3 linked regions of the Homo sapiens genome follow. The protein of the gene in region 2 purifies or fractionates together with the protein of the main gene of each other region. This does not show direct contact. Each region holds a gene or a part of one and is shown on either strand. Other genes may lie near its edges. The genes, in order: LYZL1, XAGE3 and METAP1D.

Region 1 (4,338 bases), on a different chromosome or scaffold from region 2:
AAGCCCCAGTAATTGTCCAGGCCAGCCCTCGAGAATATTTTTGCCAGTTTGCAACGAGTGTAGATTTTGGACTCGGCGCCTGTGACCAGGCAGCCAATGAGGGTCAGAATGCCCGCAGCCTTCATCCTCAAAGCCTGCCGGAGACAGAACCTGCCAAAGAGCCGGAGAACAGGTCAGACGATCTTGGTTCAGGAACTTTGAAATCCAGCGGTGGTGACTGTGCACAGCCCTGCCTAGATGCTGCCTGTCACTTTGGTCATTCAGTGCCACCATCAGGGAAAACCGGCCACTCTACGGTCCAGGGAAGGAAGGCAACTGAAGGCTGTTTCCTTAATGCTTTTCCATACAGTAACTTTCAAGTCAATGCTGTGTTCTCAGGGTTAAGCAAGCAAAAAAATTAACCCTCCTTAATACACATCCAGGTGAAAACCACAGGGGGCATTTTTAGGATTTCTATTTTAATTCTATGAATGAAAAATAGAATACAGGGGTGAAACATTCCCTATACTGCTGACCCTTGAACAACATGGGTTTGAACTGCGTGGGTCCATTTATCCGTGAATTTTCTTCTGCCTCTGCCACCCCGAGACAGCAAGACCAACCCCTCCTCTTCCTCCTCCACCTCAGCCTGCTCAGTGTGAAGACAACCAGGATGAAGCCCTTTATGATGATCCACTTCCACTTAACAAATAGTAAATGTATCTTCTCTTCCTTATTCTTTTCTGAATAACATTTCATTTCTCTAGCTTACTTTATTGTAAGAATCCAGTACAGAAGACATAGAACATAAAAAATATGTGTTTATTGGCTATTTATGTTATCAGTAAGGCTTCCAGTCAGCAGTAGGCTATGGAGTCGTTAAGTTTCTGGGGAGTCAAAAGTTACATGCAGATTTTCAACTGAGCAGGCGTCGGTGCCCGTGACCCCTACATTTGTTCAAGGATCAACTGGATGTGTAGAAACAGACAGCCCATTTCAGCCACAGATGAAAGACACGTGGGCCTGTATGGAAAACTTTAAGGGTTATTGTTTGGGGGTTTATCGAAGAGTGAAGATTAAGCACCTACTCTTTCATTTTCTTTTCTTGATTCAGTTCCAAATGTGGGAGCTTTGCTTCCAAAGTATCAGTGCTTTTATTTATTTATTTATTTTTTGAGATGGAATCTCACTCTGTTGTCCAGGCTGGAGTGCAGTGGCGCCATCTGGGCTCACTCCAAACTCTGCCTCCCAGGTTCAAGCGATTCTCCTGCCTCAGCCTCCTGAGTAGCTGGGATTACAGGCGCCCACCACCACACCTGGCTAATTTTTGTGTTTCTAGTATAGATGAGGTTTCACACTGTTGGTCAGGCTCATTTCAAACTCCTGACCTTGTGATCTGCCCACCTCGGCCTCCCAAAGTGCTGGGATAACAGGTGTGAGCCACCATGCCCAGCCCAAAACATGAGTGTTTTATCTTAGATTGCAAATGCATTGCTTTGCTAAGCTTCACCACCAGTGCTCCGGGGGGCCTCCTAAAAGTCTGGCACCTGACTGGGGAGCAAGAGGGATGGAGGACAAAGCCTCATGAAAGGAGGAAAGCACCTGGGGGAGCAGAGGGGCAATAAAGAGACCCCTGCGGAATCATCTGAAATGGGAGTAGGATCAAGAGAGCTGTCTCCTGCTGCCTACTGATTTTCCACAATCTCTTCCCCTCTTGAAATAATGTCTTCCCCAAATACAACAGCCTTGCTGGGATGGGGTGAAGTGAAATTTCTGACAACTACTCGGGATCCTGAACTTGATGTTCTTACATATGTTCATCCCGTGTCATTTTCTGCACTTGCCTAGAAACTTCTCCAGTCATTAGTTTCTCTCCCTGGGGCTGGATTCCTGCATTGAAAGGCTAGGCCCAAAACAGGGATAAGTAGTCATCAGCAAGGCCACCGCACCAAGTAACAAGCAGGGCTTTAAGGTGACTAAGCAATAAGGTAAGGAACTGCATTGCATGAGGGGCATGTACATTACAAACGTGAATAGCAAGCGTGGGCAAACCAGGCCCGCTTTTGTATGTAAAGTTTTATTGAAACATAGCTACACCCATTTGGTAATATATCATTGGTGGCTGATTTCCAACTACAGTGGCAGAGTTCAGTAATTGTGTTTGAGGCCGTATAGACCACAAAGCCTAACATATTATTATCTGGCCCTTTTCAGAGAGAGCATGCCAGTCCGCTGTGTACAGCACTGTGTTAAGCTGTGAGGGACAGACAAACGAGGTTTAAGATGCAGAGCTAAGGCCAGGCATGGTGGGTGATACCTGTAATCCAAGCACTTTGGGAGGCTGAGGTGAGCAGATTGCTTGAAGCCAGGAGTTTGAGACTAGCCTGGGCAGCAAAGGTAGACCCTGCCTCTACAAAATATACAAAAATTAGCCAGGCATGGTGGTGTGTGCCTGTGGTCCCAGCTACTGGGGAGGCTGAGGTGGGAGGATCACTTGAGGCTGGGAGTTTGAGGCCATAGTGAGCCATGATTGTGACACTGCACTCCAGCCTGGGCAGCAGAGTGAGAGACCCTGTCTAAAAAAAAAAAAAAAAAAGAAAAGAAAAAAGAAAAAAAGATACAGAGCTTACAAATAGAGTTGGTTTCCATCCCCTGCCTTAGAATTTTACTGATCTCAAACAAGTCCAAAGAAAACCCGCAGCAATGATAACCCCAAGCATCATGTTCTACATCCTTCAAGAACCTGCCATTGCTGGTTCTCATAAGAGTAATTTAGGTCTTACTGAAAAGGCAGATTCCTGGTGCCTGCCCCAGAGGCTGACTTCTCAGTTGAGTCTGCGGAAGAAACACTGCTCCACTTAGTCGGTGACAGGCAGCTCAGGGGAGCGTCCTGCATCCCCTGAAGCCATGTCTGATTCTAACGAGGCGCGAGTAATCCTTTCCTAGCTCAAGAACATTTCTTTAGAGTGTTAGAGAAAGAAAAATTCTTAATCCTTTGTTTCTCACCACCTAGAGATGCTAGAATTCTACTTCTTGGCACTAAAAGCTGTATCATCCTGCATGCTTGTGTTCTGAGGCAGGTGATAACTGTCTTCTGGGGCTTAATACCTCTTGTTTTTTGTCTTTTCCCCTCAACAACCCTCCTCATTACACAACTTGGCCAGGGCCTCCTGTCCAAGTGAGAGCTCTTCTCTGAGGCGTCTGCAAACTTTATCACAAATTCCATTAATAAAGAAAGTTAAGCATGTATCCTCTTTAGATGTACATTGAGTTATAAATCATACTTCTGTACCTCAGTACTAATATGCTACATAAATTATCAACATACATAAAACTAAAATTTGAAAATTAATGACATAGAGGTGAAATTAACATTAAAAATTTATTAACAGCACATTTGCTATAGTCAAATTATTATTAATAAAATATTTTTGTAATAACATGATTTTATTATTTTTGAAAAATTTGGCTTAACACTTTGTGAATCAATAACTAAAGGGCTGTTTTCAAGGTCTATTTATTTCAATGTTCAGATTTAGTGACACATTTGAAATGAATTCTCATTAGAATATGTAGATCTAAGTAGAAGTTTATTGTTGGCTGCACCTAACTAATCGTTATATTTTCTTAAATTCCATCTGCCAATAATGCAAAGGTTTTGTTGAAATCTATTTTGAAGTTCATATAGTATTGCATTATACAGATACAACATAGCATACTTAGCCAATTTCATATTGATGCACACTTATTTTATTCTTCTATTGTAAACATATTACAACCAGTAATTTTGTACATATGTCATTTGTAACTTTACAAGAATATCTTGCTGGATCAAAGGGTATAATTTTGTAATTTTGCTAGATATTTGCCAAATTGCCTTTCACATGGGCTTGTATCAGGAAGATAGCACACTGTGTTATCAAATGTTTCAATATTTCTCAATATTAGAGATGAAACATAATTTTTCAGCAGAGTTTCAATTTCAACTTTCGTTATTTCAAGCTGCTTGAGGGTCTTTTTTATCTTTAGAAGCCATTAGTGGACTTCTTGTGAACAGTCTATAATATGAGAAAATGTATAGGTTTTTCCCTCAAACATCTTTTTCAAAATGCTTTGAAATAGGGATCTTACCAGTGAGAAAATAGAGACGGATTGTCTTTTTCTTTTTCAAAAATGCTTGCTTAGCAAGTTTTCAGATATGACGTAAATATACAAAAGCCATTTACAATCTTATATACTAGGAATAGAAAATAAGAGTTTGAAATAAAAAAAAATCCATTTACAATAGTACACAAATGCAAATGAAGTACTTAAATTTAAACCTAACAAAATATGTGCAGGATATATATACTGACAACT
Region 2 (3,211 bases):
CTAATCTTTCAGAAAATTACATTTAAGTTATTATTAAAATGCTATCCATTGGGCAGTCTTTAGGTTTCCTAGATAGCTGACACTCACTGTTTATAGTACACAATGGTAAAGTATAGGAAATGTAAGTGTGGTCTGATTTTTCCTCAGATTGTCATTTAAGATAAGATTTCATAGTACAGGAAAACAAAGGTGGGACATCTTTGCATCACATTTATTACCACAGTCGCCTGCAGCCTTTTATTTCATAACATTGAGGAAAAGAATATTATCATTTCCTTCTTTATCTTTCTTGTTTGCCTGCTTCAATCGACAACCTTTGTATTTTTTAGTGCCTGACCTGGAAGCTGATCTCCAGGAGCTGTCTCAGTCAAAGACTGGGGGTGAATGTGGAAATGGTCCTGATGACCAGGGGAAGATTCTGCCAAAATCAGAACAATTTAAAATGCCAGAAGGAGGTATGCTATCCATTATTATGTGCTTTCTGTTTTCCACAATATTATACTTTTGATAATAAAAGAGAACATTACTATCCCTTTAAAATCAGAGTTCAAATGCAGACTTTTTTTGAAAGGTTGTTCAGACCCCAATTGCCTGACTGTAAGACTTAAACACTATCAGCTACAGACACAAATTGGGTCAAACCCACATTGAATCATCAAATATGAAAGCATATTCTTACTTCTGATTATACCCAACAACTAACAATTTTCAGATATTTTTCAATTTCTGCTTTTAACAAATACATAATGCATTTGTAATACCACTTTGTGTGAAATATCCTGAGCACCTTAAGCAGATTCTAATAACAGCTCTAACATTATTTGTGAGATTCTGGATGAATTCCATAAATTCTACAACCATCTTTTGCTGTTATTGAAAATAGTAAATGCATATCAGATGTATTAACATCTGTTTCAAAATTGATTTCTGTATCCTCATGTTCTGTTGGATAGAATACAAAGATATGATTTGTTTTTCATAACAATCAGTTTCGCTCCAGTTATAATATCTGAGTTGAGATTTCATGGTTCCTAAGAAAATGAGTGGGCAACTTGCTTCATGAAAGTATCTTTTCCACATATTTTCCAAATTGATGACTGTTAATCAGAAGAGCTTCTGAATTTATAGGAAGCATTCCATATTTATGGAAGAAATTGCCTAAATGGTTTTACTCTATACTGCTGAACCATTCCATTAGACTATTTACATGAAAGATAGTTTTCAATTATTTCCAGGAGCCCATTGAGCAATCCTCAATTGTATTCTTAGGAAGATAGTCTTAAGTGAGTATCTTGTTAAAATAGATAGAAAATTACACGAGAAAGGAAAATATTAATGAAAATTATAAAGAGCAATAGAATAAATCTAAGGGAAAAGGAAAGAGGTCCTTAATAAGAGACAGATATGAGTCATTAGTAAAAGGAAATGTAATCCAAAAGTAATACATTTAAAAGATTGTTCTTTTGAAAAATAGCTATGAATAGAGTAATAGTTTACACACTCTTGAAGAAAATGGAAAAAGCTCAACATGGAATATGAACAAGACCCTAACAGATACTGAATATATGGTATAATCGAAAGTGAATACATTCTTGAACTCTAGTATTTTCGAAGTATGAATGAAATGATTGATATGCTAGGAACACATACATTAGTTAATTTATTCCAGTAATACCTGAACATCTAAGCATCACAAAGAGTGTGGGAAAACTTCTGAAAGTTCCCACTTATCCCTCAAAAACACTTAACTTTTAGAAACAATTATTTGGCTTTTCCAGATGTCTTACTGTCCTTTTCTATTTTCCTCTCCCTCCATTTCTTTTTTTGCCCGACTATTCATGATATATGCCTCTTTCTCATTTTGATGTCAAAAATAATAGTGATAGATTAAACCAAATGTGACCATGTAATTTATTTTACCAATGGGAATACTTTCAAGTGTAAAAAGAGGGACTCTTCATATTGACATCAGGATGATAGGTGAAAATCTTGGACAAATGGTTACCGTACCTTAAAGACCACAGAAGGATGAACTAGCCCCAAGCAATATTTTTGGACTTCTGTGCAAAGAGAAAAAACAAATGCAGTACTGACCTTTCAATTCACTGCACTTTTGCAGTCCCTAATGTGACATAAATTGTTTCCCAGGAGCTTGTTGAACATCCAGACTATTATTTCAAGGCAAAACATTGCATTACATGATACATTGTTTGTAAATTCCTTTTGTTTCTTAGGTTTGTTGTGTGTTGGTCATATTTTTATTAAAACAATACACAATGTTTGCTTTTCACTTTGAGCCACCTTTTAATAGGTTCACTTGATTTAAAGTGCTCTGAAGTTAGACAGTTTTTGGTTTCCTTGAACTACAGAAGGCAGGATGTTTTAAAAATGTTGCTAATGTATATACTTGGAAGCCTATCTTCAAAGTCTCTACAGAGGTCTAACTGAATGTTAGCCATCAGGTTACTCTTAGGCTTCTGGTTTAATCCACGGTATAAAACCAAAACTTTGGTGTCCTTTGCCTACCTTTAATGTCATCTGAATACAGTTCTGCTACTAATGTTCCCTCCTGTTATATTTCTATTATAGGTGACAGGCAACCACAGGTTTAAATGAAGACAAGCTGAAACAACACAAAACTGTTTTTATCTAAGATATTTGACTTAAAAATATCGAAATAAACTTTTGCAGCTTTCTCCAAAGAAGTCTTGCACATTTTTTGTTCATTTTATTCCCAAATATTTGGTACTATTGAAAATGGTGGCCAGGTGTGGTGGCTCAAGCCTGTAATCCCAGCACTTTGGGATGCGGAGACAGGAGGATTTCTTGAGCTCAGGAAACTGACACCAGCTTGGGCAACATAGTGAGACCCCCTCACTGCAAAATAAATGAATGACTGCATGAATGCATGAATGTATGCATGTATATATGTAGCCTTAGTCCCAGCTACTCCTGAGGCTATGTTGAGAGGATCCCTTGAACTCAGGAGGTCGAGGATGTAGGTAGTTATGTTCAGGCCACTGCAACTCCAGCCTGGGTGACAGAGTGAGACTCTGTTTAAAAAAAGAAAAGGAAAAGTATCATTTTTGAAATTTTCTATTCTGATTACACTGGTACACACACTTGTGATATTATGAAATATATAAATATATATTTGGTCCTCTACCCTGTATACTGGCATACAACTCTTAATATTTTTAGAATCTCCACA
Region 3 (3,655 bases), on a different chromosome or scaffold from region 2:
AAGCAATACAATTCACCTCACCAGAGATTTCTTTTTCTTTTCTTCTAAGGAAAAAAGTGTCAGTTTTGTAACTAATACCAAATTCTCACTCTCACTGTGATGGCCAGGCCAGGGGATACATCCTGGTGGCCCTTCTGTGTCACTGGCCTTTGCCATAAAAGTGGGCCACTCACCTTCAGAAGTATAACATACTAAATATGGGCTCGCTGTAAACAAAGTTCATAAAAGGGAGAAAGCAGATGATTTTTGTGACCAATCTATATTTCTTTAGCTACTCTCCTTCTTCCTAAAGGGCTCACTCGCACACTCCCTTTATATTGCATTTTGAAAAATGGATAGATTGCCTTTCCACAGAATTGCAATCTCTGAAAAAAAAAAGCCAAGACTGCTCTGAGACATATTTTATTTAATTTAGTCTAAAAGACAATTCAAAGACACCAGCATCAATAACAAGGAAAATGTAAGAACAGGCTTAAAAAAATCTAGTATGTTAGTTTTAAGTAATCTCTTTTGAATCATCACAATTTTATAGTCAATTTTTTTTCTCTAAAACAGTTAGAAAACTACATACGTATAGTTTTATCTTCATGTTAGAAATTTAATATAGAAAATTTCATGTTAAAAATTTTAATTCTAAATACTCTAAGCAATTGAAAGCTTAGAGCTTTGTTTTAAAAAATTAATGCTATAGAATTGCAGGATATTAAAACTTCTCAAATCACAGTTTTAGATCACAAACCTAGTTTGAAAATTAAAACCCAAATGGCTCAGAAATCAAAGGTGCAAAAATATTTGATCACTTCTGCAGTCAACTTTTATCTTGGCTGGAAAAAGCAGGAGATAATAGGCAATACAGTACCTTAGGAACCGGATGAGCTGAAGAAACTGCAGCCGGCAAAACTATACTGTGTGAAATATCTCTTTGTCTCCGAAAAAAGAAATTTCTTCTTTGTTGACTGCTTGACTGCTTGTGTAAGTAGATATGATTGAGTGGTGAAGAGAAAATTCTATGAGAACCTGTGAGCAGAAACAGACATATTTTAAGTAAAAAAACAACCTAACACAGTCCTCCACTTTAAGATGTTGTGGTGTTGTCTATTAAATCATTATTCTAATACCTTATTGACTGAAAAAGGAAAAGCCCCAAATAGAAATGAAAACAGTGGTATTCTGAATTCTAGTACAATAGTAACACAGCGTATTTATTAGCTAATACTATGTTTACATAAATGCGTGACAATGGAAAACTCTACTCTAACGGGAAACAAACATATAGAAACATCTGCTAAGCACCAGGTCTGTAAAAAGAACAATTTCTGCTGTAATACCTTATGTGGCAATGTCCAAGACGACCCTAGATTCAGGGCACTGTTTTGATGGCTTTATACTCTGTAAAGCCGTTTCCTTTCAAGAATCACGGACAAATTGCCAGCTGCACTTTTTGCCCTCCATAGGATTACTACTCTGTGTTAAGTTCACGTGCAGTGAGGCATTATACTGAAATTCATTGTGATGAATGTTCAAGTCAGATAAAGACTAAATAGCAAAAATGTAAGTATAACACTGAAAGAAAATGAATATAGGGTTTGAAGTACTCACAACAGGAATTTAGAAATGTCTATCAAAATTTTAAATGCACATATCCTTTGACTCAGCAGTTCATCTCCTAGGACTTTATCCTGCAGACACTATGCACTGATGGATGAATGAAGATGTACCCTCATGGCAGCATTATTTGTGGTAGAAGAAAGTGGGAAACAACTCAAATGTTTCCAAATAGGAAATACCAGTAGGGGACTGATTAAATATATTATGGTATACTTACAGAAAATTCTGGAGCTATTAAAAAGAATAGGCTAAATCATCATCTCTATGTGTTGATATGGAAAGAGGTCACAATACACTGTTAGGAAAAAAGTGAATGCTTAACAAATACATATAAAAAGCCCATTAATGTAAAAGGAGCTTATACATTTATATAAGCTTGCACGTGCTCATAAAATTTCTGGAAATTGATATTTGTAAACAGTGGCTCTTTCTGTGGCTTGTGGTTGGGGCTAGAGGTAGAGAGGAAGACTTTTTTTTTTTTTTTTTTTTTGAGACAGGGTCTTGCTCTGTCGCCCAGGCTAAGGCAACAGTGGTGCGATCATGGTTCACTGCAGCCTTGGATTCCCAGGCTCAAGGAATCCTCCCACTTCAGCCTCTTGAGTAGCTGGAACCACAGGCACATGCTACCATGCCTGGCTAATTTTTGTATTTTTTGTAGAGATGGGGTCCTGCTATGTGGCCCAGGCTGGTTTTAAACTCCTGGGCTCAAGCGATCCTCCCACCTCGGCCTCCCAAAGTGTTGAGGTTACAGGCGTGAGCTACTGCATCCAGCCAGGAAGACATTTTGATTCATTTTATTACTTTCATATTTAGAACAATCTTTTTTTTGTTTTTTGTTTTTTGGTTTCTTTTTTTTGAGACGGAGTCTCACTCAGTCGCCCAGGCTGGAGTACAGTGGCGCGATCTTGGCTCACTGCAACCTCCGCCTCCCAGGTCCAAGCAATTCTCCTGCCTCAGCCTCCAGAGTAGCTGGGACTGCAGGCGCGCACCACCAGGCCCGGCTAATTTTTTTGTATTTTTAGTAGAGACGGGGTTTCACCATGTTGGCCATGCTGGTCTCAATCTCCTGACCTCGTAATCTGCCCGCCTTGGTCTCCCAAAGTGCTGGGATTACGGGCGTAGCCACCGCGCCTGGCCAGAACAATAGTTTTAGAAGTCCCCAACAGGTCACAACTACATGGCAGGGGTCAGAAAACTACAGCTCAAGGGCCAAATCTGGACTGCTGACTGTTTTTATACAGCACAAAACCTAAAAATGGTTTTTACATTTATAAATGGTTGAAAAAAACTTTTTAACCCAATATTTTGTAATACATGAAATTCAAATCTTGGTGCCCATAAATAAAAGGTTCATTGGACCATAGCTACCCTCATTTGCTTACAAATGTCTATGGAGGATTTTGAGCTACAGTGGTAGCTGAGTAGTTGTGAACACATGTTCCACAGAGCCTAAAAAATGTACTCTTTGGCCCTCTACAGGAGACATTTGCTGAATCCTGGTCTAGAGCAGTAGTCCTTAAAATGAGGTTCACAGACCAGCAGTATAATGTCACATAGAAAAAAGATGCAAGGCTGAGTGCGGTGGGTCACGCCTGTAATCCCACACCTTGTCTCTACTAAAAATACAAAAATTAGCCGGGCATGGTGGCGCGCGCCTGTAATCCCAGCTACTCGGGAGGCTAAGGCAGGAGAACTACTCGAACCCGGAAGGCAGAGGGTGCAGTGAGCCAAGATCGCGCCACTGCACTCCAGCCTGGGTGACAGAGCAAGACTCTGTCTCAGAAAAAAAAAAAAAGAAAGAAAGAAAGAAAAAGAAAAAAGATGCAAATTCTTGGGCCCCGTATCGACCTACAAACATAGAAACTGGTGATGGAGGCGGGCAATCTGTGCCTTAACCAGCCCTCAGGTAATCCTGACGCACACGAAGCTTGAGAACTGGCCTAGAGTAACATTTCAGCTGTGAAACATAATGAAAACGTGAATTGCAGGTAAGTACTGGCTTCAAAACTCTGGATCTCTAATTGACTTGGGGAAAGGCACTGATGCA

What was found.
Region 1: the proteins of XAGE3 (region 2) and LYZL1 purify together in Homo sapiens (co-immunoprecipitation; one large-scale study listed by IntAct). This does not show direct contact.
Region 3: the proteins of XAGE3 (region 2) and METAP1D purify together in Homo sapiens (affinity purification with mass spectrometry; 2 studies listed by BioGRID and IntAct, with this or other methods). This does not show direct contact.

What each region holds. Positions count from the first base shown.
Region 1 is NC_000010.11:29,287,655-29,291,992, reverse strand, and holds the start of LYZL1 (lysozyme-like protein 1 precursor), read right to left. Parts: upstream 2,924-4,338; 5' UTR 2,876-2,923; coding exon of another isoform or gene 2,763-2,875; intron 151-2,762; coding exon of another isoform or gene 126-150; coding exon 1-125.
Region 2 is NC_000023.11:52,862,019-52,865,229, reverse strand, and holds the end of XAGE3 (X antigen family member 3), read left to right. Parts: intron 1-329; coding exon 330-455; intron 456-2,589; coding exon 2,590-2,612; 3' UTR 2,613-2,702; downstream 2,703-3,211.
Region 3 is NC_000002.12:172,058,860-172,062,514, reverse strand, and holds part of METAP1D (methionine aminopeptidase 1D, mitochondrial isoform 1 precursor), read right to left. Parts: intron 1,018-3,655; coding exon 860-1,017; intron 1-859. UniProt on the Homo sapiens protein: Removes the N-terminal methionine from nascent proteins. The N-terminal methionine is often cleaved when the second residue in the primary sequence is small and uncharged (Met-Ala-, Cys, Gly, Pro, Ser, Thr, or Val).